Homo sapiens: one gene and its partners. The protein of the gene in region 7 purifies or fractionates together with the protein of the main gene of each other region. This does not show direct contact. Each region holds a gene or a part of one and is shown on either strand. Other genes may lie near its edges.

The links.
Region 1: the proteins of ITGB8 (region 7) and EDC3 purify together in Homo sapiens (affinity purification with mass spectrometry; one large-scale study listed by BioGRID and IntAct). This does not show direct contact.
Region 2: the proteins of ITGB8 (region 7) and TARS3 purify together in Homo sapiens (affinity purification with mass spectrometry; one large-scale study listed by BioGRID and IntAct). This does not show direct contact.
Region 3: the proteins of ITGB8 (region 7) and POGLUT2 purify together in Homo sapiens (affinity purification with mass spectrometry; one large-scale study listed by BioGRID and IntAct). This does not show direct contact.
Region 4: the proteins of ITGB8 (region 7) and RAP1B purify together in Homo sapiens (affinity purification with mass spectrometry; one large-scale study listed by BioGRID and IntAct). This does not show direct contact.
Region 5: the proteins of ITGB8 (region 7) and ACTR3C purify together in Homo sapiens (affinity purification with mass spectrometry; one large-scale study listed by BioGRID and IntAct). This does not show direct contact.
Region 6: the proteins of ITGB8 (region 7) and L2HGDH purify together in Homo sapiens (affinity purification with mass spectrometry; 2 studies listed by BioGRID and IntAct, with this or other methods). This does not show direct contact.

Annotation. Positions count from the first base shown.
Region 1 is NC_000015.10:74,689,525-74,693,024, forward strand, and holds part of EDC3 (enhancer of mRNA-decapping protein 3), read right to left. Parts: intron 3,495-3,500; exon of another isoform or gene 3,362-3,494; intron 1-3,361. UniProt on the Homo sapiens protein: Binds single-stranded RNA. Involved in the process of mRNA degradation and in the positive regulation of mRNA decapping. May play a role in spermiogenesis and oogenesis.
Region 2 is NC_000015.10:101,682,974-101,686,473, reverse strand, and holds part of TARS3 (threonine--tRNA ligase 2, cytoplasmic), read left to right. Parts: intron 1-411; coding exon 412-578; intron 579-2,236; coding exon 2,237-2,399; intron 2,400-2,857; exon of another isoform or gene 2,858-2,959; intron 2,960-3,500. UniProt on the Homo sapiens protein: Catalyzes the attachment of threonine to tRNA(Thr) in a two-step reaction: threonine is first activated by ATP to form Thr-AMP and then transferred to the acceptor end of tRNA(Thr).
Region 3 is NC_000013.11:102,783,781-102,786,378, reverse strand, and holds the end of POGLUT2 (protein O-glucosyltransferase 2 isoform 1 precursor), read left to right. Parts: intron 1-39; coding exon 40-147; intron 148-1,866; coding exon 1,867-1,884; 3' UTR 1,885-2,098; downstream 2,099-2,598. UniProt on the Homo sapiens protein: Protein glucosyltransferase that catalyzes the transfer of glucose from UDP-glucose to a serine residue within the consensus sequence peptide C-X-N-T-X-G-S-F-X-C. Can also catalyze the transfer of xylose from UDP-xylose but less efficiently.
Region 4 is NC_000012.12:68,617,399-68,620,898, forward strand, and holds part of RAP1B (ras-related protein Rap-1b isoform 1 precursor), read left to right. Parts: intron 1-3,500. UniProt on the Homo sapiens protein: GTP-binding protein that possesses intrinsic GTPase activity. Contributes to the polarizing activity of KRIT1 and CDH5 in the establishment and maintenance of correct endothelial cell polarity and vascular lumen.
Region 5 is NC_000007.14:150,317,046-150,320,545, forward strand, and holds part of ACTR3C (actin-related protein 3C isoform a precursor), read right to left. Parts: intron 1-3,500. UniProt on the Homo sapiens protein: May play a role in the suppression of metastatic potential in lung adenoma carcinoma cells.
Region 6 is NC_000014.9:50,249,730-50,253,229, forward strand, and holds part of L2HGDH (L-2-hydroxyglutarate dehydrogenase, mitochondrial isoform 1 precursor), read right to left. Parts: intron 1-3,500.
Region 7 is NC_000007.14:20,413,577-20,416,254, forward strand, and holds the end of ITGB8 (integrin beta-8 precursor), read left to right. Parts: 3' UTR 1-2,178; downstream 2,179-2,678. UniProt on the Homo sapiens protein: Integrin alpha-V:beta-8 (ITGAV:ITGB8) is a receptor for fibronectin. It recognizes the sequence R-G-D in its ligands.

The DNA of each region.
Region 1 (3,500 bases), on a different chromosome or scaffold from region 7:
TTTTTTTTTTCTTTTTTTGAGACGGAGTCTCGCTCTTTCGCCCAGGCCGGACTGCAGTGGCACTATCTCAGCTCACTGCAAGCTCCGCCTCCTGGGTTCACACCATCCTCCCGCCTCAGCCTCCTGAGTAGCTGGGACTACAGGTGCCCGCCACCGCGCCCGGCTAATTTTTTGTATTTTTAGTGGAGATGGGGTTTCACCGTGTTAGCCAGGATGGTCTCGATCTCCTGACCTCATGATCCGCCCGCCTCGGCCTCCCAAAGTGCTGGGATTACAGGCGTGAGCCACTGCGCCCGGCCCTGCCTCCATTTCTTAAACACCTCCAGGTAAGAATACTTTAATTCATTTACCACTTTGTTCTTATACAAATAAACAAGTTGCCAATTACAAATCTAGCTACTTTGGAATATCCTTCATCTCATTAATACATTACTAGTGTAAGTTTGCTGACAGGATTTGATGTACAATAAAAAAAAATACATCTTCCCTGTAAAGCCTATTCATGACAATAAATCCTTCAAACAATTCCACTTCTAAAAAAAACTAATTTTTCTGTGTAGTATTCAACAATGTTAAATATTTCAAAAAAATGCAATGTTTGTGCAGCTAGCTAACCAACACTTATTTTGCCAACTTGTTATTAAAATCTATCCTAACAATCTGTGTAGCTAGGAAGGGAGCCACAGATGTGACATAATCAAGATTTTCCAGATTACTTTTAATTATGGGACTATTTTGCTCAAATGCTGAACTATCAGGATTTCCAGACTACTGAATGCCAGATAAGTAATGGGACTTTATCATTATTCTGATAAGCCTTTGGATAACAAAGTCAGGTAGCGCTAAACACTCTTCCATCTATTATATTACTAAGGCAGCGCCCAAATGATCCATAAATTACAAATAAACAAGTTGCCAATTACAAATCTAGCTACCTCCATCTCTGTGCCACATCAGACAACTCACAGCATTCAGATCCAATAAACAACCCTTGGCCTGCTAAAAACAATTATAATTAACAGCTGTGGATGAGTGAGTAGTTATAGATTTCTGAAAAACTAGGAATTGTTCCACACAACAGGAAAGGTGTTTGTTTAATCAAAATATTGGGAAAGGCAGAGATCTTAAAAGAAAATATGCAACCCAGCATGATGGCTCAGGCCCTACATCCCAGCACTTTGGGAGGCTGAGGCAGGAGGATCACTTGAGGCCAGGAGTTTCAGACCAGCCTGGACAACATAGCAAGACTGTTTCCACCCCCACCCCGCCTCAGAAAAAGAAATCCAGCACAATCCCCTATCTAAATCCAGTACTAAACCCATATCTTCCATAAAAGGCAGCACGGTGAAAAGAGAATAAAATTCTGAAATCACACTGGGTGTGGTGGCTCACGCCTCAGGTGGCTAGTGTCTGCAATCCTAGCACTGTGGGAGGCCAAGGAGGGCTGACCGCTTGAGCCTAGGAGTTCAAAGCCAGCCTGGGCAACATGGCAAAACTCTGTCTCTAGAAAAAATACAAAAAATTAGTCAGAAGTGTTGGGAGGCGGAGGTTGCAGTGAGCCAAGATTGCACCACTGCACTCCAGCCTGGGTGGCAGAGCAAGACCCTGTCTCAAAAAAAAAAAAAAAGAAAAAAATGAAATCAGACATCACAGCCCCTGGTTCACTTCTGAACTTCCTTACTAACCAGCACTACGACCTGGGCAAATTACCTAATCTGAGTCTCAACTGCCTCATCTGTAGGGAATTATGCCAATTATACACCTATCTCATAGAACCACTATATGAATTATTTTAAGATACTATATGGATTATTTTAAGATACTATATGGATTATTTTAAGATTAAATGAGATAATCCATATAGTGTCTACAACATAAAAAATTTTAGTTCAAATGTCTCCTTTTGCCAGAAAGAATACCGATCACATAGGGAACTTAAGTTATGGCGCTGTGAGGGCCACCTCACTTCTCACCCAAACAAAATTACAAAAATACATGAATTCCCTCTACAACATCTTGGAAATCAAGTCCTGGTCTTTACACTGGAATACACATGTCCGTAGGGGGTACACAAAGATATGCAAGCAAGGGAATCAACTTCCATGCTACTCTCATAAACCTGATCTGTGTGGATAACTAGATGATCAATTTTAAATTTTCAGGCATAAAATTTATTACTTTAGGATGGGTAGGAAAACTACAGCCCTAAACCAGATCTGGTCTGCTACCAATAAAGTTTTATTGGAACACAACTACACAAAAATACTTGCATATTATCTACGGCTATTTTCTGGGTTTTTTTGGGTTTTTTTGAGACAGTCTTGCTCTGTCGTCCAGGCTGGAGTGCAGTGGAGCGATCTCGGCTCACTGCAACCTCCACCTCCCGGGTTCAAGCGATTCTCCTGCCTCAGCCTCCCAAGTAGCTGGGACTACAGGCGCCCACCAACACGCCCGGCTAATTTTTTTTGTATTTTTTAGTAGAGGCGGGGTTTCACTGTGTTAGCCAGGATGGTCTCGATCTCCTGACCTCGTGATCCGCCTGCCTCAGTCTCCCAAAGTGATGGGATTACAGGCGTGAGCCACCGCACCCGGCCACATATTGTCTATGGCTGTTTTCTCACTACAGTGAGAATTAAGCAGTAATCACAGAAACCATGTGGCCCATAAAGCCTTTCATCTGGCCTTTGACAGAAAGTTGACTTTTGCTTTAGGATAAAATTCTGTGGGAAAAGTGGAATGGATACAAGTTCAAAAAGAAAAAGGAAAAATATGTAATGGACAAACTCCCAAAATGATAAAAATGACCAAAACTAACTCAACTAACTATATTAAGAAATTGAATTAGTAAAATCTTCCCAGAGAGAAAAACCCAGGCCCATAGGACTTCACTGGTAAATTCTATGAAACACGTAAGAAATAATACCAATCCTACACAAACTATTTCAGAAAACAGAGGAGGAAGGAACACTTCCCAATTCATTTTATGAGGTCATAATTACCCTGCTACTAAGGCCAAAGATGACATAAAAAAAAGGAAACCTCAGACCAATATCCATCATGAACACAGTCACAAAAATTAACAAAATGTTAGCAAATTGAATCCATCTATATGTAAAAAGTAGTAGATACATTACTAAGCAGGGTTCATTTCACAAATGCAAGATGGGTTTAACATCTGAAAATCAAGTAATGTAATAAGCTATGTTATGTATTTCTTACAGTCTTTGTTTCAAAAGTTTAGTTGTATGTTTTTACAACATCAAATTGATATTGTATTTAGGTAATTTTATATTTATTTTTAAGAAGTCAATATTTACTTGTCAGAAATTACATCCTAAACTATTTAAAATTAAATACTTACACTATGTAAATCTAGGATGAAAAGTTTCAGGTGCCAACTTAAAAGTATATAAGATCTAACAGATTCCACAGTCTTTTAGACATTCTCAAGAAGAAATGTTTTAAGACTAGTGACCCAGCCTATACCTGAAAGCCTGAAA
Region 2 (3,500 bases), on a different chromosome or scaffold from region 7:
AAAACTAAATAAATCAAAATTATAACATGCAACATGGCATTCAGGCTTATTAAATTATAAATTTTTTCTGCCTCTTAATAGGAAAAAACCTGTTTAGAAGGACTTTGGAGTAGTTACAGTGAGTTTCTATATATATTGTATTTCAATTACTACTTTTCAAAGAACTAAAACATTATATACTATATACTGTTATATGCTATAAAATAAATATACTCAATAGAAATTATACTAAGCATATGTAAATCTTTCTTCCAAGATCCAGAAACCACCACACCTAAAACTGAGGGTACATTAATCATGAATTAATATAGGACATGAGCCCAATTTGAAAATATTTGCTCATAGTGTTACTTTGCATGGAATTGTGATCTGCCCTAGCAGATTTTAATGTTGAATGCATGTATCTTGAAGGAGGAATATCACAAACGGGACTTCACGGAGGTGCTCTCTCCCAATATGTACAACAGTAAACTCTGGGAAGCCTCAGGCCACTGGCAGCATTACAGCGAGAACATGTTTACCTTTGAGATTGAAAAGGACACTTTTGCCCTCAAACCCATGAATTGTCCAGGGCACTGGTGAGTATTAAAAGCGAAGCAGACCTTTTCATGAGAGCACATAGCACGCTTCGTCACAATTATCTTTTAATGCTTTGTGGAATGAAAGAGTCCCTTTAATCTGAAGAGTGGTGATTACTAATTTTTACTAAGTTGTTTCATTCCGGAGAATGGATTTACTTTTGAAAATATATTTGATCTTTGGCAGGTATGGGATGTTAGCTGGTAACCATTGCATTTTTTTGTGCTGATTAAAGGATAATGTTATGTGTCAATTTTATAAGTTTTATAATATTTGTCTTTCTTATAGTAATGCACTTCACATGTTCATATTTGCAGAATATTTAGTTCTTTCATACTGTTTGGGTGGATTATAACAAGATCAATGAGGTCATAATCAATGGGTTTCTGGATTTCACTGATTCCAAGATACCATTTTTCTTCCACATTTCAACATTTCTGAAGTTGAAATGCATCTTATAGTTGGTGGCATCTTAGCATTATATCATAATTTAATTAATAGGTTATTTTCTTTCTTTGTAGCACATAAAATGAAGATACATTTTACAATCAATGCTGTCTTTGATTCTATGAAAGACTAATTATCATAAAGTTGGTATGCAAATTCAACCTTGTAAGACAAACATATTGTACAACTGAAACTGAATAGGCATAATTGTCCACAAAAAACAATCCCAACAATTGTAGTTTTTGTATTATCAACATACATAGTTTCAAGTAAATTTACCTAGAAGATAATTATTAAAACCGGTAACTGAACACTGAAGAAAGCTCTTTGCCCTTTTAAGTGAAGATGAGAAGAAATTTAACTTTATGATGATGTCATGTAAAAAATATATATAACTTTAATTTTAGGAACACCGGTATGTAAACATTCTGTATCCTCTCTTTCTAAACAGAAGGTAGAAGCTATGCTAGTGTTTTGCATTGTAAAACACTTGTGTTAACAATTTCTTAACTCATCTTCTCAAAGGCATCCTTTAAAATTATAGCCTCGTACTTTATAATGAAAGTAGAGAATTTAAGTTTGTCTTTTTACACCTCAGAATAAGAAAGCAAGACCACGGTGGCTTAGAGGCAATGGGATATGGAAGCTAGGAGTGCTTTCTGCAGGAGAGAAGTCTTTCATTCAACAGAGAACATAGTTGAGTGCTTTTTGTGCTTGGAGCTAGAAGTGCAGAGGTGATTAAGACACAAACCATTCCCTCATGGAACTCATGAGCAGAGTGGGCAGGGCCATGCATGTAGACAATCTGTTATAAAAAGACCAGTGCCATAATGATGGCATGTTTGAGGTGTTCCAGGAACGTGAGGAGAAACTGCCTAGCCCTGTCTGGGAAATGTCTAGGAGGGCTTCATTTAAGAAGTAGCCTTTGAAATGAATCATAAACAGTAAATGGTGATTCACTGTGTGGATAAGGGGAGGGAACAGCATTTCTGGGAAGAGATAATAGACAAGCATCTTTCTCAGAGTGCTGCAGTGATGTAAATGCAAGGTTCACTAATTTGTGGAAGAATTTTTTTTTTAACCTGGTGATCTAAGAACTAGAATAAGGAGTTTATGAATCTTGAGGCTTAATTGTAATTTCTTTATATTTAGATAATTATTTAATATTTCTGTGCTGTGTAAAAGCTGTGTGTTACCACATCTTTTCTAGTCTAATGTTTGCCCATCGTCCACGATCTTGGAGGGAAATGCCTATTAGATTTGCTGATTTTGGAGTTCTGCATAGAAATGAACTGTCGGGGACTCTCAGCGGCTTGACCAGAGTGAGGCGCTTCCAGCAGGACGATGCTCACATTTTTTGCACAGTGGAGCAGGTAAACAATAACACAGAGTGAAGCAGTGTGGTCACAAATTGAGTGTGATGCCCCGCACACATCTTGTATTCTTTCAGAGTTACTGAAACATAGACGTTTGGTCTAGTCTCTGAGATTCATTCAGCTCTAACCTGCTGTGATTCTCTAAATTAGGTCAATAGATTAATCATCTCTTGACATGAAATATATTCCTTCAGTGATTTTATTAACCTAAATTCCATTAAGTGGAGTATTTTAAGGGATTTGGTGGAATTCTGGATGTTTTGTTTTTCAGTATCGCCTAGAACTTAAAATTTACTTTTTCAAGTTTTTGTGTTAATTCAAGTTAAAATTGCCATGCAAAGTTTCACTGTCAAACAATTTGACCTAATTGATGTTTATATAACAACAGCAGAATATACATTCTTTGGTTTCATGTTGGATGGGTAATGTGCCAGTGTTGTATCCAATGTGCTTCATGTGGGGTGGGTAATATGCCAATGTTGTACCGAGGTGTGAGGGAGGTACATCTTACACATGTGTGTACACCCAGTCATCACGCTTATGAACTACAAAAAGCTCAGAGTATTTGTTCTTTGAAATTGCACGTAGAATATTTACTAAAATAGACCATATTCTGGACCATAAAACAAGTCTCAGTGAGTTGAAAGGGATGCAATTAAAATAAAATGTTTAATTAACCCTAATGTTTAACCCTAATCCTAACTGACCACAATAGAATTAAAAATAGATAACACAAAATCCAAAGGAAAATTAGACAATTTTATATAACAAATGAAATAAAAACACATCAAAATTTGTAGGATGCGATTTAAGTGGTAGAGGGATGTTTATAGCACTGAATACCTGCATTAGAAAAGAAAAATCAATGACTTAGCTTTTACTTAAGATAGAAAAAGAAGAACAAATTACACCCAATGTAATGGAAGCAAAAGAAAGAAAATAAGAAAGAGCAGAGCAGAAATCACTGAAATAGAAAATAAAGAGTAAAAATAAAACAAAAGCTGGTTCTCTGAGAAGATCAATAAAATTGATAAACCTTTAGTCAGACTGATGAGGGAAAAAAGACAAATAAAAATGTCAGGAATGAGACAGATGTCA
Region 3 (2,598 bases), on a different chromosome or scaffold from region 7:
TGTTTTATAAGGAATGCTTTTATATTGTTGCTTAAACAGGAATATGCCAATTTACAAGTGAGTGAGCCCCAAATCCGAGAGGGCATGAAAAGGGTAGAACCACAGACTGAGGACGACCTCTTCCCTTGTACTTGCCATAGGAAAAAGGTAACCAGAACTGAGCTTATGGCCGGTGTCAGAGTAAAAACTAACATTGATCCAAACTTGCTTTTATTCCTATAGTCATTCAATCAGGCAGCAAATATTTGAGTTCCTCTCGAGGTCTCCAAGCAATTCAGTCTGCCAGAGAGATAGGTATAAAAGATAGCAGTGCTCAAGAAAGGATGCTACAATGCAGTTAATTGAGAAGACATGGTAGCTCCCTGGCAAAGTGGGGGGAAGTCTTTTATAATGTGAGAATCCAGCTCACACCCTATTTGAATGGATGCTTACAGTCTGAAAAATATTTTCATGTGTATCATCTGATGCCCTCATCTCCTCATGAGATAAGTTTGGCAAAGTTCATCATCCCAGTTTAGAGAAGGAAAAATATGTAACCACGATTATTAATGTTTTCCAATTCTTCATTTGAAAGTCATCTCAGTTGATACCACTACATAAGGATCTCATTGATAAAAATGAAAGTCAGATTCACATCTGGACTTTTAAGGTAGAAAGGACCTTAGAAGTCATCCAGTAAATGCCTTCATTTTATGGTTAACAAAACTGAGCCCAAAAAGGAATTGTGCTCAAAATCATCTAGCTGGATTATAGCAAAGCAAAAACCAATCTCTCATCATCAGATTGTGATTGTGTGTGCTTGTATATAAAGCTATAGTGTGGCAGGGGACTGTTGCTTTGATTATGATTTTTGTTTGTTTGAAGGAATGTAAATTGCATAAACTAGAGTGTGTGTGTGTGTGTGTGTGTGTGTGTGTGTGTGTGTGTAACATATGCTGACTTAACATTTTAGGCAACATAATTAGGTTTCTGAATGGACAAGTTCAAAATTGTGGTATTATAACCAAAGACAAGAAGGCAGATTTGGCAATTATTATGTCTACCTCTCAAGGAGGTGTAAAAGGAATTAAGGTGAGGCTGGCCCCAGTGATGTGACAGAACCAGCTTATATGAGCTCACTGATAAATATTCAGGAATTTTGCATACTAGTTAAATTTTTGGTAGCTTGGAATCATCCTGATAGGAGTATTTACACCATGACAATCAGCACATGCTACAAATCAGAATTTTGGCTGTTTTATTTTTGTCTTTGTTTTTTATAGAACTCATTAACCACTAACCAACTGGCCCTCAGAGGTGGTTCGTCATCATTGTGAACTCTGTCAGTGCTCCAAGGCCATAAAAATCAGTTAAAACCAATGATAAAACAAGAATTGCCAAATCGAAAGGTTCCCCCTCACCAATCCGTGATTTGGTATCAGAACACTTCTCACTTTGGCTCTAAGTGAGACTGGCAGCTTCCTTGCTCCACTCCTGCTCAGTTATTTATCTTCATCTACGTGATTGAGAGGAGGTACCCAGCCAGTTTCTTCCACTGAGTAGTAGAAGTTAGGGGCCAGAATGATAGCTTCGTTTATTTTTTGCTCATTGTCTATCCTAGTCTTTCACCACTACTGTTCATAACATGAGGCCTTTACAGTAGTACAGCCCATGGATGTTTGGGTTCCTTATCAGTAGGCTATGAAACACAATGTGATTTTACCCTTAGCTGACTCTGGGCCTCTGGAAATAGTCCCAAGCCCTAAAAGCCTCTAGCAGCAGCTTGGCTCCCTCTCATCTTTACAGGAAAATAATTAACGAATGTAAGTCTTCTTCACTTGTGTAAGACTTCTTGATAGCTCTAAATATTTTGCTTCTTAATTGCAGACCAAAGATGAACTCTGATATGCAAAATAACTTCTATTAGAATAATGGTGCTCTGAAGACTCTTCTTAACTAAAAAGAAGAATTTTTTTAAGTATTAATTCCATGGACAATATAAAATCTGTGTGATTGTTTGCAGTATGAAGACACATTTCTACTTATGCAGTATTCTCATGACTGTACTTTAAAGTACATTTTTAGAATTTTATAATAAAACCACCTTTATTTTAAAGGACTACGTTGTGCTAATTATTAGCCGTGTTTGGAACAGAGAGCAGTAAAAACAGAGAGAATCTGGGTCCTTAATGCACAGCAGCCCAGACCACCTGCCCAGACTGGTTTTAAATGACAAAGCAATGAACCCCTGTCTCCTTTTAAGCCCATATTATTGTGGGTATTCAGCCAAACTTAATTCTAGCTAATACTTCGTACAAGGCCAGTCATTAGATGGCCTCTACCTGCATCTTTAGTCAAATCTCTCAGCACTTTCTAGTATCAATACTGTCCTCTGGAAGAACGAGTCCTCTCCCAGTTCTGTCAATGCCTGTGTCCTTACCTTCCTGGCTCTTGCCTTTCCCTTGTCCTGGAATGTCTTGGCCCTCTTTTCTTCAACCGGCTTACACATCCTTCAGCACATATTTTATCCTTACTAGATTTTAAGTGCCATGACCTCAGAGACCAGGCCTTTCTTCTGGGTAGTCCTAACGTCTAATAGAGTGCCAGCAACTAGAAAGA
Region 4 (3,500 bases), on a different chromosome or scaffold from region 7:
TCTTGAATTGAGGGATAGGATGAGATATATAACATATGTTATCTGTTGTTTTCTCCTACTGCTCTTGAAATTAACAAACTTGAGATAGTGTACTGATTTGTATTTATAAGATTGGCTGAGTTCAAATATGTCTTTTTGACGTTCTTACCAATGTTTAAAATATAGAAAAGTATAAAGAAGAAAATGAGTATCATCCGTAATGCCATCACTACAATGACTTTTTTAAAGCAAAATGTGTACTTTCCTTCTGAAGCTTTCCAACCTCCTTGCCTCCTCAGTGAGAATGATGACATACTGTTGTTAGAGTTGTTGAGGATCAAATGCAGTATTACTCATGAATGTTTCATAAACCATAAAATAATACAGTAATGTACTATTTTTTTTTTTGACAGCCTCACTCTGTCACCCAGGCTGGAGTGCAGTGGCACAAACTTGGCTCACTGCAGCTTCAACCTCCCAGATTCAAGCCATTCTCCAGCCTCAGCTCCCCAAGTAGCTGGGCCTACAGGCGCATGCCACCATGCCCAGCTAATTTTTGTATTTTTTGTAGAGACGGGGTCTCACCATGTTGCCCATGCTGGTCTGAACTCCTGAGCTCAAGTAATCTGCCCGCCTCCACCTCCCAAACTGCTAGGATTACAGGCATGAGCCACCATACCCAGCTGTATTAGTTCTTGTTCTATAAAGCTTTTTTTTTTTTTTTTTTTTTTTTTGAGGTGGAGTCTGTCGCCCAGGCTAGAATGCAGTGGCACAATCTTCGCTCAGTGCAACCTCTGCTCCCAGGTTCAAGCAATTCACCTGCCTCAGCCTCTCGAGTAGCTGGGATTACAGGCATGCGCCACCACGCCTGGCTAATTTTTTTTGTATTTTTCTTAGAGACGGGGCTTCACCATATTGGCCAGGCTGGTCTCGAACTCCTCACCTTGTGATCTGCCCGCCTCGGCCTCCCAAAGTGCTGGGATTGCAGGCGTGAGCCACCTTGCCTGGCCCTATAAAGCTTTTATTCTCCTATGGCATTGCTTAAGAATCCCATTAAAGTATGAATAAGGACTAATAAATAATTGTGAGTTTTGATTAGTGTAACAAATGAATTACCTAGATCAGTATTTTCAAGGTATGGTCCAAGGAATCCTGGAGGTCCCCTAGACATTTTTGGCGAGTCTACAAGTGCAAAACTATTTTTATAATACTGAGACATTCTTTGCCGTTTTCTTTGTAGTGACATTTGTACCTGTAGTATAAAAACAGTGGTGGATAAAACTTCTGGCGCTTTAGAATAAACCAGGTTAGAGTACTTCACTGTCCTAGTAATCATTGTATTATTCACTGCCATGCACTCAGATTTTTTTTTAAGTTTCACCTAAATGCTCTTGATGAAGAAGTAAAAAAATTTTAAACTAAATCTCTACCTTTGTACACATCTTTAATATACTGTAACAAAATGGGAAGTATGCTTAAAACACTGGCGAGGCCATGGACAGCAAGCCTCCCAGCACTTTGGGAGGCTAAGTCCAGCTTGGGCAATGTAGTGAGAGCCTGTCTCTCCTATTAAAAAAAAAAAAGTTAGTGTGGTCATGCACATCTACAGCTACTCTGGAGGCTGAGGTGGAAGGATCTCTTGAGCCCAGGAGTTGGAGGCTGCAGTTAGCTGTGATCGTGCCACTGCGCTTCAACCTGGGTGACAGAGCAAGACCCTGTCTCGAAAAACAAAACAAAAACACTTGGCAGCATACTGAAATATAATGGTTGTTTCTAGGGAAAGTATTTGTGTGATTGAGTCACACGCTGAATCAATCTTCATATAATGCCATTTTTGCTTAAAAGAATGCCAGACTTGGGCATTAGGCTGACATTTTCTTGAAAACAGTGAGGCTTTGCTTTAGGGAAAATAGTGGTAGTATTTATGGTCGATGATAAAGTTCCTAGATTTTAAGCAAAAATTTTAGAAAGCTTGTATCAGCTGCTGTAAGTATATAATGAAATCTGTCATTATTTGATTATCTGCATAACTGAGTCAGTATTTCCAAATGATCAATGCATAGTATTATAAAAATCATACATGGGTAAGAAATCTTTACAAAGTGTCAGCTAGACCAATGGATTTTAATGTTATAGAGAACATAAAAGTTTATCAATAAGGTATCCTGTTCCATATTGCAACCAATTGCTGAGCTTTGGTGTAGTGTCAAAGACCAGTATCCAGATTTATCTGAAAATGCTATTAAAATATTCCCAACTGTCTAATGTATTTTGTATTACTTATTTTTCCATGCTTTGCTCTCAGTGTTTAATGTCTTCTTTGATTTATTTTGTTTATATTTTTGTTGGAAACAGGAATGGGAGCCATAGATAAATGTGAAGCAATGTTTTCATGTGCTTTATCTTAAAATCTCCTATTAATATATAATCAGTTTAACTTCTTTGTAGTCTTCTCTGTGCATTCCATTCAACTTTTGGTCTTGGTAATGGATTAGATAATAGTTATTTTTAAGCCTATTTTTGGTTTTAATATTTGTTTTGTATACCTGACTGCTCATCTATAGACAGAATTCCCTTGTGTCCAAAGTCTAACATAATCCTTAAGTAGATTTTTAGTAGTTGACTTTCTCAGTTTTAAAATATTTGATAACTTTTCCATAGTAAAGCTGTAAGTTTCAAGTTTAGTAATGTCTTTTTGACCTGAGAATTTGGTGTGTTGTCTTACCTTAAGTAGACACTTTTCAAAAACACACCTGTAGAATGATCCTTTTTTTACCTTTCAGGAGAATGCTGTTTCTTGGTGGTGGTGGTTTTTTTATTTTTTTATTTTTTTTTATTTTTATTTTTATTTTTTTTAAGACTGAGTCTCTCTATTGTCACCCAGGATGGACTGTGGAATGCAATGGTGCAATCTCAGCTCATTGTAACCTCCTCCTCCCAGGTTCAAGCGATTCTCTTGCCTCAGCCTCCCAAGTAGCTGGGATTGCAGGCACCACCACCATGCCTGGCTAATTTTTGTAGTTTTAGTAGAGACAGGGTTTCACCATATTGGCCAGGCTGGTCCCGAACTCCTGACCTCAGGTGATCCGCCCACCTCGGCCTCCCAAAGTGCTGGGTAGAGCCACTCTGTGGCCTTCTTTTTTATGTTAATTTAAAAACATTTGTAGCAATCCTTGTTAAACTGTTTTTATAAACTCATGGGATAAGTCCAAATTTTATTTTCCTTTTCTTTTTTTTTTTTTTGAGACAAGGTCTCACTGTCATCTAGGCTTGAGTGCAGTGTCACAACCACGACTCACTGAAGTCTCGACCTCCCGGGCTCAGTTGATGCATCTCAGCGTCCCAAGTAGCTGGGACTACAGGCGCATGCCACCACACCCAACTAACTTTTGTAGAGACAGGGTTTTGCCATGTTGCCCAGGCTGGTGTCAAACTCCTTGGCCTAATCGGTTCTTCCACCTCAGTCCTCCAAAGTGCTGGGATTACAGGAGTGAGCCACCGCACCGGTCTGGTTCCACATT
Region 5 (3,500 bases), about 130 Mb from region 7:
TGGAGTCCTTCCTTCCTTCTTTCCTTCATTTATTTATTTATTGAGTTTCCTTCTGTTGTGCAATGGCGTGATCTCGGCTCACTGCAACCTCTGCCTTCTGGGCTCAAGTGATTCTCATGTCTCAGCCTCCCAAGTAGCTGGGATTACAGGCGTGCAGCATGCCCGGCTAATTTTTTGTATTTTTAGTAGAGACAGGGTTTCTCCATGTTGGCCAGGCTGGTCTCGAACTTATGGACTCAAGTGACCTGCCTGCCTTGGTGGCCTCCCAAAGTGCTGGGATTACAGGTGTAGGCCACTGCGCCCAGCCTTCCTTTGTATTTTCTAACTGGTGGTTGTTTGCATAGATGGCGGCTTTTGATTCCCATTTATTAATATTAAACCCACACACCTTACTGAATTATTTTATTAGCTGTAGTAAATTTTGTCAGTTAATTATTTTGTGTTTCTCACTTATGCAATCAAGTCACTTGAAATGATGATAATTTTACCTATTTTCCAGTTAATAAGCCTCTAATTTCTCTCTCTTAACTAGTGGTGTTGACTAAACCACCAGAACAACGTTAAATGATGATGGTAATAGTATATGTGATTATCTTATTCTTGAATTCAACAGGAATACATTTCATGTTTTCCATTTAAGCATTATACTATCTTTGAGGTTGAGGTGGATATATCTGATCATGCTAAGAAAATAGGCATCTATTTCTATTTCACTACAATCTAGTTATTATCCAGATGGATATTGAATTTTGTTGAATCCATTCCAGTAGCTGAGGAAATGGATTATGACTTTTCTCTTTAAATCTATGACCACCAAGAACACATCTGCAGTTGAATGGGGTTGGGTTTATCGGCTCCTTGCAAGGAGGAGGAAAGTAAACCAAAAGGAACTATGGGATGTCTCACAAGAGGGTGTTAAAAAGGACTCTTTATAGGACAGGGCTTGTTTTAGTAGATTTGGGGGAGGTTGCAAGAAAATGGGGATTTCCTCTCAATGGGATGATGTCGGGAAGTAGGGGCAATTCTATAATTGTGTATATTTTAGATAATTCTTATGGAGAAGACGAGAAGAATAGAGTGAGGCTAAAGCTATGACGGTGAAAAGCATTAGTCATTTGTATCAGCCAGGATGGGGAGGTTTCCTGCGGTTTGGATAATGTTCTTGTTTTGTCTGTGCTCAGAGATCATTATGGAGTGGTCTGATCTCTGCCAAAAGACACGAGGGATTTCTGGGAGCACCACAAGCTAAGACAAAGACATGGAACAGAGTCTTTCCTAGAGCTTTCAGAGAGAGTACAACACCTTGATTTCAGACTTCTACCCTCCAGAACCGTGAGACAATACATTTCTGTTGTTTTAGGCTACCCTGTTTGTGGTATTTTCTTACTGCAGTCCTGGAAAACTAATAAAGATGCCAACTTTAAAGTATACAGAGTTGCCAGTTGCGGTGGCTCACGCCTGTAATCCCAGCACTTTGGGAGGCCAAGGTGGGCGGATCACGAGATCAGGAGTTCAAGACCAGCCTGGCCAATATGGTGAAATCCCATCTGTACTAAAAATACAAAAATTAGCCAGGCGTGGTGGTGCAGAGCTGTAGTTCCAGTTACTCGGGAGGCTGAGGCAGAAGAATCGCTTGAACCCGAAGAGCCGAGATCGCACCACTGCGCTCCAGCCTGGGTGACAGAGTGAGACTCCATCTCAACAACAATGGCAACAACAACAACAAAACAAAGAACATACAGAGTTTTTCAAGATTCTTCTGGGGGCCCGTGAGCCCAAAAATTTGCTTTAGATCAGTGTTTCTCAAAAGCTTACATAAACCATGTGATTCTCATGCATTTCACTCCCTTAGGGGTTTATTTTAAAAGTCATTTTCTGGGCTTCTTCCAGACCCACATAATGGGTGTGGGCCCTGTATTCTGCATTTTCAAACAAGTTTCCCAGGTTCTTCTACATCCCAAAACACTGCTGAAGTAGGAAGATACCTGGGCTGTAGACAAAAATTTGGATTTAATCTTTACCCAGTCTATTACTGAGCAAGTCTTGTCAATTTAGGCAATTTAAGAGTTAAAGTGTACACTCTACTGGGAAAATCCCCGGTTCCAAGTCGAGTGACTCTGAAATTTATTCACTGCACAGCATTTGTAAAATTGCTTCTTCTTTTTTTTTTTTTTTTGAGACAGAGTCTCACTCTGTTACCTAGGCAGGATGGAGTCCAATGGCGTGAGCTTGGCTCACCACAAGCTCCGCCTCTCAGGTTCAAGCGATTCTCCTGCCTTGGCCTCCCGAATAGCTGGGATTACAGGCATGCACCACCATGCCTAGCTAATTTTGTATTTTTAGTAGAAACGGGGTTTCTCCATGTTTCTCAGGCTGGTCTTGAACTCCTGACCTCAGGTGATTTGCCTGCCTCGGCCTCCCAAAGTGCTGGGATTATAGGCATGAGCCACCTCGCCTGGCCCAGAACAAACTTCTTAAGGGTCTGTCTAGCTCTGACATTCCACAAGGCTATGAAATGGTCCAGGAAGAGTTAGGGCAGGATGGCAAATTCAGGTGCCTTTGACTTTGGGAAGATGGAGGCAAAGCACTTTGTCCATCCAATTACTTTGTATTTATTTATTTATTGTTTGTTTGCCCAGACTCCAGTCTTGACAATTACTCTGCATTTTAAAACACTGTTGGGGCTAACCCTACCAACCTCTCCCCTGACCCGAGACAGAGTTAGCAGCTAATGTAGCTACTTCCCACTTTCTGTCACCCCTGCAAACAGGGCAAACAGGGATGCTGTATCTGGAAGCTCTAGGGGCAGGAGCCAGTCCTATTTATCCTTTGTAAAACACCTAGCAAAACGAGATGATTTTAGGTCAACCCTCCTGAAACTTGGCTTGGCTGCAGTGACAAGTTTTGTACCTACAGGAAGATCAGCATTTCCTTCCGTTCTTCCTCTGCCAATCCATCCCTGACTGGTCTTTTGCCCTCTTTTGAGTAAGAAACTCCTTGTTTTAGAGTGTTTCTGGATTAACGCTGGAAAGGGACCAACTCTGAGCCCATAGTGTGGATCCCATGTAACAGTACTCTTACCAGAAAAGGGGTTTCACCCCAGACCCCAAGGGCAGGTTCTTGGATCTTGCACAGGAAAGAATTTAGGGTGAGTCGCAAAGTACAGTAAAGTTTAAATGGTTTATTAGAAACTAATCTATTAGAGTAGGGTATCCTCAGGAAGCAAGAGGAAGAACGCCCTACCTCAAATGTAATGCTTGTTTGTGTAGGATATTAGAGCTAAGAATAGTGTATTTTATTACAAAGGCTTGTGATCGGCTTGTGACAGACTATCTGTATTGTTATTCTCTTGTGCAATTAATTTCAGAAAGAATTTATGAGTGGACTATTATCTTTAGAGCAAAATATAGTTTAAATTAAGAATGCCTTTTTCCAGGCCAGGCGCCATGGCTCAAGCCTGTAATCCCAGCACTTCGGGAGGCTGAGGTGGGTGGATCACT
Region 6 (3,500 bases), on a different chromosome or scaffold from region 7:
CTGTGGTGGCTACAGTGAAAGACTCCTTCTGTTTGAGAAAAGCAGAGATAAAAGTAAAGGGGACTTTGTCTTACACCTTAGGTACCAGCTCAGCCACAGTGAGGTAGAGCAACAAGCAGGTTCTTGGGGTCCCCAAGTCAAGGCTTACACTCCTTTTTTTTTTTTTTTTTTTTTTTTTTTTTTTTTTTGTGAGACAGAGTCTCGCTCTGTTGCCCAGGCTGGAGTGAAGTGGCGTGACCTCGGCTCACTGCAACCTCCACCTCCTGGGCTCAAGCGATTCTCCTGCCTCAGCCTTCCAAGTAGCTGGGATTACAGGTGCACTCCACCACGCCCAGCTGATTTTTGTATTTTTAGTAGAGATGGGGTTTCGCCATGGTGGCCAGGCTGGTCTCGAACTCCTGACCTCAGGTGATCCACCCGTCTTGGCCTTCCAAAGTGTTGGGATTACAGGCATGAGCCACCGTGTCTGGCCCAGGCCAACACTCTTGGACGGCATTTCTAGCACTACCCTGGGCCAGAGGGGAGCCCACTGCCCTGAAGGGTAAGTCCCAGGCCAGGCAGCTTTCACCACAAGCTGATGGAAGAGCCCTTGGGCTTTAAGTGAATATTGGTGGTGGCCTGGCAGAAACCCTGTGGACCAAAGGTGGTGGTAGCCACAGGGAGTGGCCCCTCTGCCTGTGGAAAGGGGAGGGAAGAGTGAGAAGAACTTTGTATTGTAGTGTGAGTGCTAGTTATCCGCAGTAGAACAGAACATCAGGTAAACTACTAAAGTATTTGACCCCAATCTGTGGCTTCCAGACAGCATCTCTGGACACGCCTGGGGCCTGAGGAAGCTTACTGCCCTGAAGGGAAGGGCCCTGGGCAAGACCCAGTGCTGGGCTGGCTTCAGGTCTGACCCAGTGCAGTCCCAGTGGTGGTGGCCACAGGAGTGCTTGCATCACCACACCCCCCAGTTCCAGGGGGTTTAGCACAGACAGAAAGAGACTCCATTTATTTGGGAGGAAGTAAGGGAAAAGAACAAGAGTCTCTGCCTGGTGATCCAGAGAATTCTTCTGGATCTTATCCAAGACCACTTAGGTGGTACCTCTACAAGTCTACAAAAGACACAATGTTATTGGGCTTGTTACCCAAGTCCCTTTGAATACCTGGAAAGCCTTCCCAAGAAGGACAGGCACAAACAAGCTCAGACTGTGAAGACTACAATAAGTACCCAACTCTTCAATGCCCAGACACCAAAGAACATCTACTAGCATCAACACCATCCAGGAATACATAACCTCCTCAAATAAACTAAATAAAGCACCAGAGACCAATCCTGGAGAAACAGAGATATACGACCTTTCTGACAGAGAATTCAAAATAGCTGTTTTGAAGAAACTCAAAGAAATTCAAGACAACACAGAAAGAATTCACAATTCTTTCAGATAAATTTAACAAAGGGATTGAAATAATTAAAAAGAATTAAACAGAAATTCTAGAAATGAAAAATGCAACTGACATGCTGAAGAATATATCAGAGTCTCAATAGCAGAACTGATCAGGCAGAAGAGTTTGTGAGCTGAAAGACAGGCTATTTGAAAATACATAGTCAGATGAGACAAAAGAAAAAAGAATAAAAAACAATGAAGCATGCCCACAAAATCTAGAAAACATTCTCAAAAGGGTAAATCTAAGAGTTATTGGCCTAAAAGAGGAGGTACAGAAACATATAGGGGTAAATAGTTTATTCAAAGGGATGATAACAGAGAACTTCCCAAACCTAGAGAAAGATATCAACATTTGAGTACAAGAAGATTATAGAACCCCAACAGCATTTAATCCAGAGACTAACTCAAGCCATTTAATAATCAAACTCCCAAAGGTCAAGGATAAAGAAAGAATTCTAAAAGCAGCAAGAAAAAAGAAACAAATAATATACAATGGTGCTCCAATATGTCTGGCAGCAGACTTTTCAGTGGAAACCTTACAGGCCAGGAGGGAGTGGCATGACATATTTAAAGTGCTGAAGGAAAAAACCCTTTTACTCTAAAATAGTATATCCAGTGAAAATATCCTTCAAGCATGAAGGAGAAATACTTTCCCAGACAAAGTTGAGGGATTTCATCAACACTAGATATGTCCTACAAGAAATACTAAAGAGAGTTCTTCAATCTGAAAGAAAAGGATGTTAATGAGCAAGAAGAAATCATATAAAGGTACAAAACTTCCTGATAACAGCAAGCACACATAAAAAACACAGAATAGTATAACACTATAATTGTGGTGTATAAACTTCTCATCTTACATAGAAAGATTAAATGATGAACCAATCAAAAATAGTAACTACAACAACTTTTCAAGACACAGACAGTACAATAAGATATAAAGAGAAAAAAAAAAAATTAAAAGCCAAGGAACAAAGTTAAAGTGTAGAGTTTTTATTAGTTTTCTTTCTGTGTGTTTGTTTGCATATGCAATCAGTATTGTCATCAGTTTAAAATAGTGGGTTATAAGATAGTATTTGCAAGCCTCATGGTAAAATAGAAAAACATACAATGGATATCAAAAAATTAAACAAAAAGAAAGAAATTAAAACATACCATCAGAGAAAAATCACCTTCATTAAAAGGAAGATAGGAAGAAAGCAAAGAAGGAATTGAAGACTGTAAAGCCACCAGAAAACAAATAACAAAATGGCAGGAGTAAGTCCTTACTTATCAATAATAACACTGAATGTAAATAGACTAAAGTCTGCAGTCAAAAAGACATAGAGTAGCTGAATGGATGAAAAAACAAGACCCAATGATCTGTTGCCTAAAAGAAACTTACTTCACCTATAAAGATACAAAGAGACTAAAAATAAAGGGATGGAAAAAGATATTCCATGACAATGGAAATGAAAAAAGAGCAGGAATAGCTAGAATAGCTATATTGATATCAGACAAAATAGACTGCAAGACAAAAACTGTAAGAAGAGACAAAGAAGATTATTATATAATGATAAAGGAGTCAATTCAGCAAGAGGACATAATGATTGTAAATATATATGCACCCAACACTGGAGTACCCAGCTATACAAAGCAAATATTATTAGAGCTAAAGAGATAGACCCCAATATAATAATAGCTGGAGACTTAAACACCCCACTTTCAGTATTGGATAGATCTCCCAGGCAGAACCTCGACAAAGAAATGTCAGACTTAATCTGCACTACAGAACAAATAGACCTAATAGTTATTTACAGAACATTTCATCCAATGGCTGCAGAATACACATTTTTCTCCTCAGCACATGGATCATTCTCAGGGATAGACCATATGTTAGATCACAAAACAAGTCTTAAAACATTCAAAAAATTTGGAATAATATCAAGCATCTTCTCTGACCACAATGGAATAAAACTACAAATCAATCACAAGAGGAATTTTGGAAATTATATAAACACATAGAAATTAAACAATATGATCCAGAATGGGATCACATCAAGTTAAAAAGCTTTTGCACAGCAAAGGAAACAATCA
Region 7 (2,678 bases):
TCAAGCTTAATAAGCCTAATAGTGAAAAATAACTGAATTTAATGGTATAATGAAGTTCTTCATTTCCAGACATCTTTAATTGATCTTAAAGCTCATTTGAGTCTTTGCCCCTGAACAAAGACAGACCCATTAAAATCTAAGAATTCTAAATTTTCACAACTGTTTGAGCTTCTTTTCATTTTGAAGGATTTGGAATATATATGTTTTCATAAAAGTATCAAGTGAAATATAGTTACATGGGAGCTCAATCATGTGCAGATTGCATTCTGTTATGTTGACTCAATATTTAATTTACAACTATCCTTATTTATATTGACCTCAAGAACTCCATTTTATGCAATGCAGACCACTGAGATATAGCTAACATTCTTTCAAATAATTTTCCTTTTCTTTTATAATTCCTCTATAGCAAATTTTTATGTATAACTGATTATACATATCCATATTTATATTTCATTGATTCCAAGACATCACTTTTTCAATTTAACATCTCTGAAATTGTGACATTTCTTGCAACTGTTGGCACTTCAGATGCAGTGTTTAAAATTATGCTTGAATAAATATTACACTAATCCAACTTTACCTAAATGTTTATGCATCTAGGCAAATTTTGTTTTCTTATAAAGATTTGAGAGCCCATTTATGACAAAATATGAAGGCGAAATTTAAGGACAACTGAGTCACGCACAACTCAACATGGAGCCTAACTGATTATCAGCTCAGATCCCGCATATCTTGAGTTTACAAAAGCTCTTTCAGGTCCCCATTTATACTTTACGTGAGTGCGAATGATTTCAGCAAACCCTAACTTAACTAACAAGAATGGGTAGGTATGTCTACGTTTCATTAACAAATTTTTATTATTTTTATTCTATTATATGAGATCCTTTTATATTATCATCTCACTTTTAAACAAAATTAACTGGAAAAATATTACATGGAACTGTCATAGTTAGGTTTTGCAGCATCTTACATGTCTTGTATCAATGGCAGGAGAAAAATATGATAAAAACAATCAGTGCTGTGAAAAACAACTTTCTTCTAGAGTCCTCTTACTTTTTATTCTTCTTTATCATTTGTGGGTTTTTCCCCCTTGGCTCTGATCACTTTAACTTCAAGCTTATGTAACGACTGTTATAAAACTGCATATTTAAATTATTTGAATTATATGAAATAATTGTTCAGCTATCTGGGCAGCTGTTAATGTAAACCTGAGAGTAATAACACTACTCTTTTATCTACCTGGAATACTTTTCTGCATAAAATTTATCTTTGTAAGCTAACTCTATTAATCAGGTTTCTTCTAGCCTCTGCAACCTACTTCAGTTAGAATTGTCTAATACTGCTCTATTAATCAGGTTTCTAGCCTCTACAACCTACTTCAGTTAAAATTGTCTAATACAGCAATATTTAAAAAAAAAACACTGCAATTGTCAAGGATGGAAAATGTGTGATTTGTGTAAACAATTTTTACCAACTTTACATTTTCCTACAGATAAATGTGAAATTTTGATAAGAAGTCTACGCAATGACAAGTATGGTACATAAATTTTATTAAGAATATTGAGTATAAAGTACTTTAATTCTAAATTATAAGAAAATATACATTTGCACATATTAATATAGAAATTCATTTTGTGTATATTTAACATAGCTTTTAAACTATTTTACATTAGCTACTTCATTATGGTTTCTTGAACTTCTGAAAAAAATTAGAAATGTATTAAACTTATCAGTAACATAAAAACTTATTTTGTTTCACCTAACGAATACTGCGTTTGTAAAAATAAATTTAATATAGAATATATTTTTAAATTAAATATTTGAATATAAAATAGCTCTAAGAAAGAAGCAAATTATCACTGAACATATTTCTTATTATTTCTGGCTTTGAATTATACGTAACTTAAATTGTCTTAAATGATACAGAATATTGGAGAATATGATACTTTCACATAATATACTATGAACCTGTTCATATAACTCTGATTGACTACTAACTTCTGTTTTATGTATTTATTAAAGAGCTGACACTGTAGTTTGTGGTGAGATGTTTATTTTTCTAACAGAGCTTATAACAGTTAGGACAAGGCATTTAATTAATGCATCATTCTGTTTAGTAGTAGGTGTTAATCAATATGAAATTCTCTGTTTTAAAATAAAAATGTAAAAATCTAAGAATATGCAAAACGCTTCCTTATTTACTTTGTGTTACATTAATCTCAAAGCTTCCAGACAACAGTACTTTGTCCCCCAAGGAAATGTAATAGCATCTATACACTGTCATTAGCAGAGGACATTACATAATTCCAAAAAGATATTACTCCTAGAAAATTGTAGGGCCAATGATAAACAGGGGAGGCCATCCTAGTTGTTCTTTTCCTTTTTGATAGTTATTTGCAGTAGAAACAGAAGAAATATTCTAATGACAAAAACCTGAAAAAAATAGCTAAAAGTTAAAACAGGCATTTTCCATGTGCCAGAGACTTCTACCACCACCTTAGGTGTGACACATTCATAACCTTCAATTGCACATTCTCAAGAGTCAGGCTTAAATTAATTGAATTTTATTGAATACCCATGTATTGTGATTTTTCTTACCCTAGAGAAGAGAATAAAGCAGAATGTGGTAGATACTGAGATCAGCTCAGTCGTGGAGACCCTAACCCAGCGGCGCC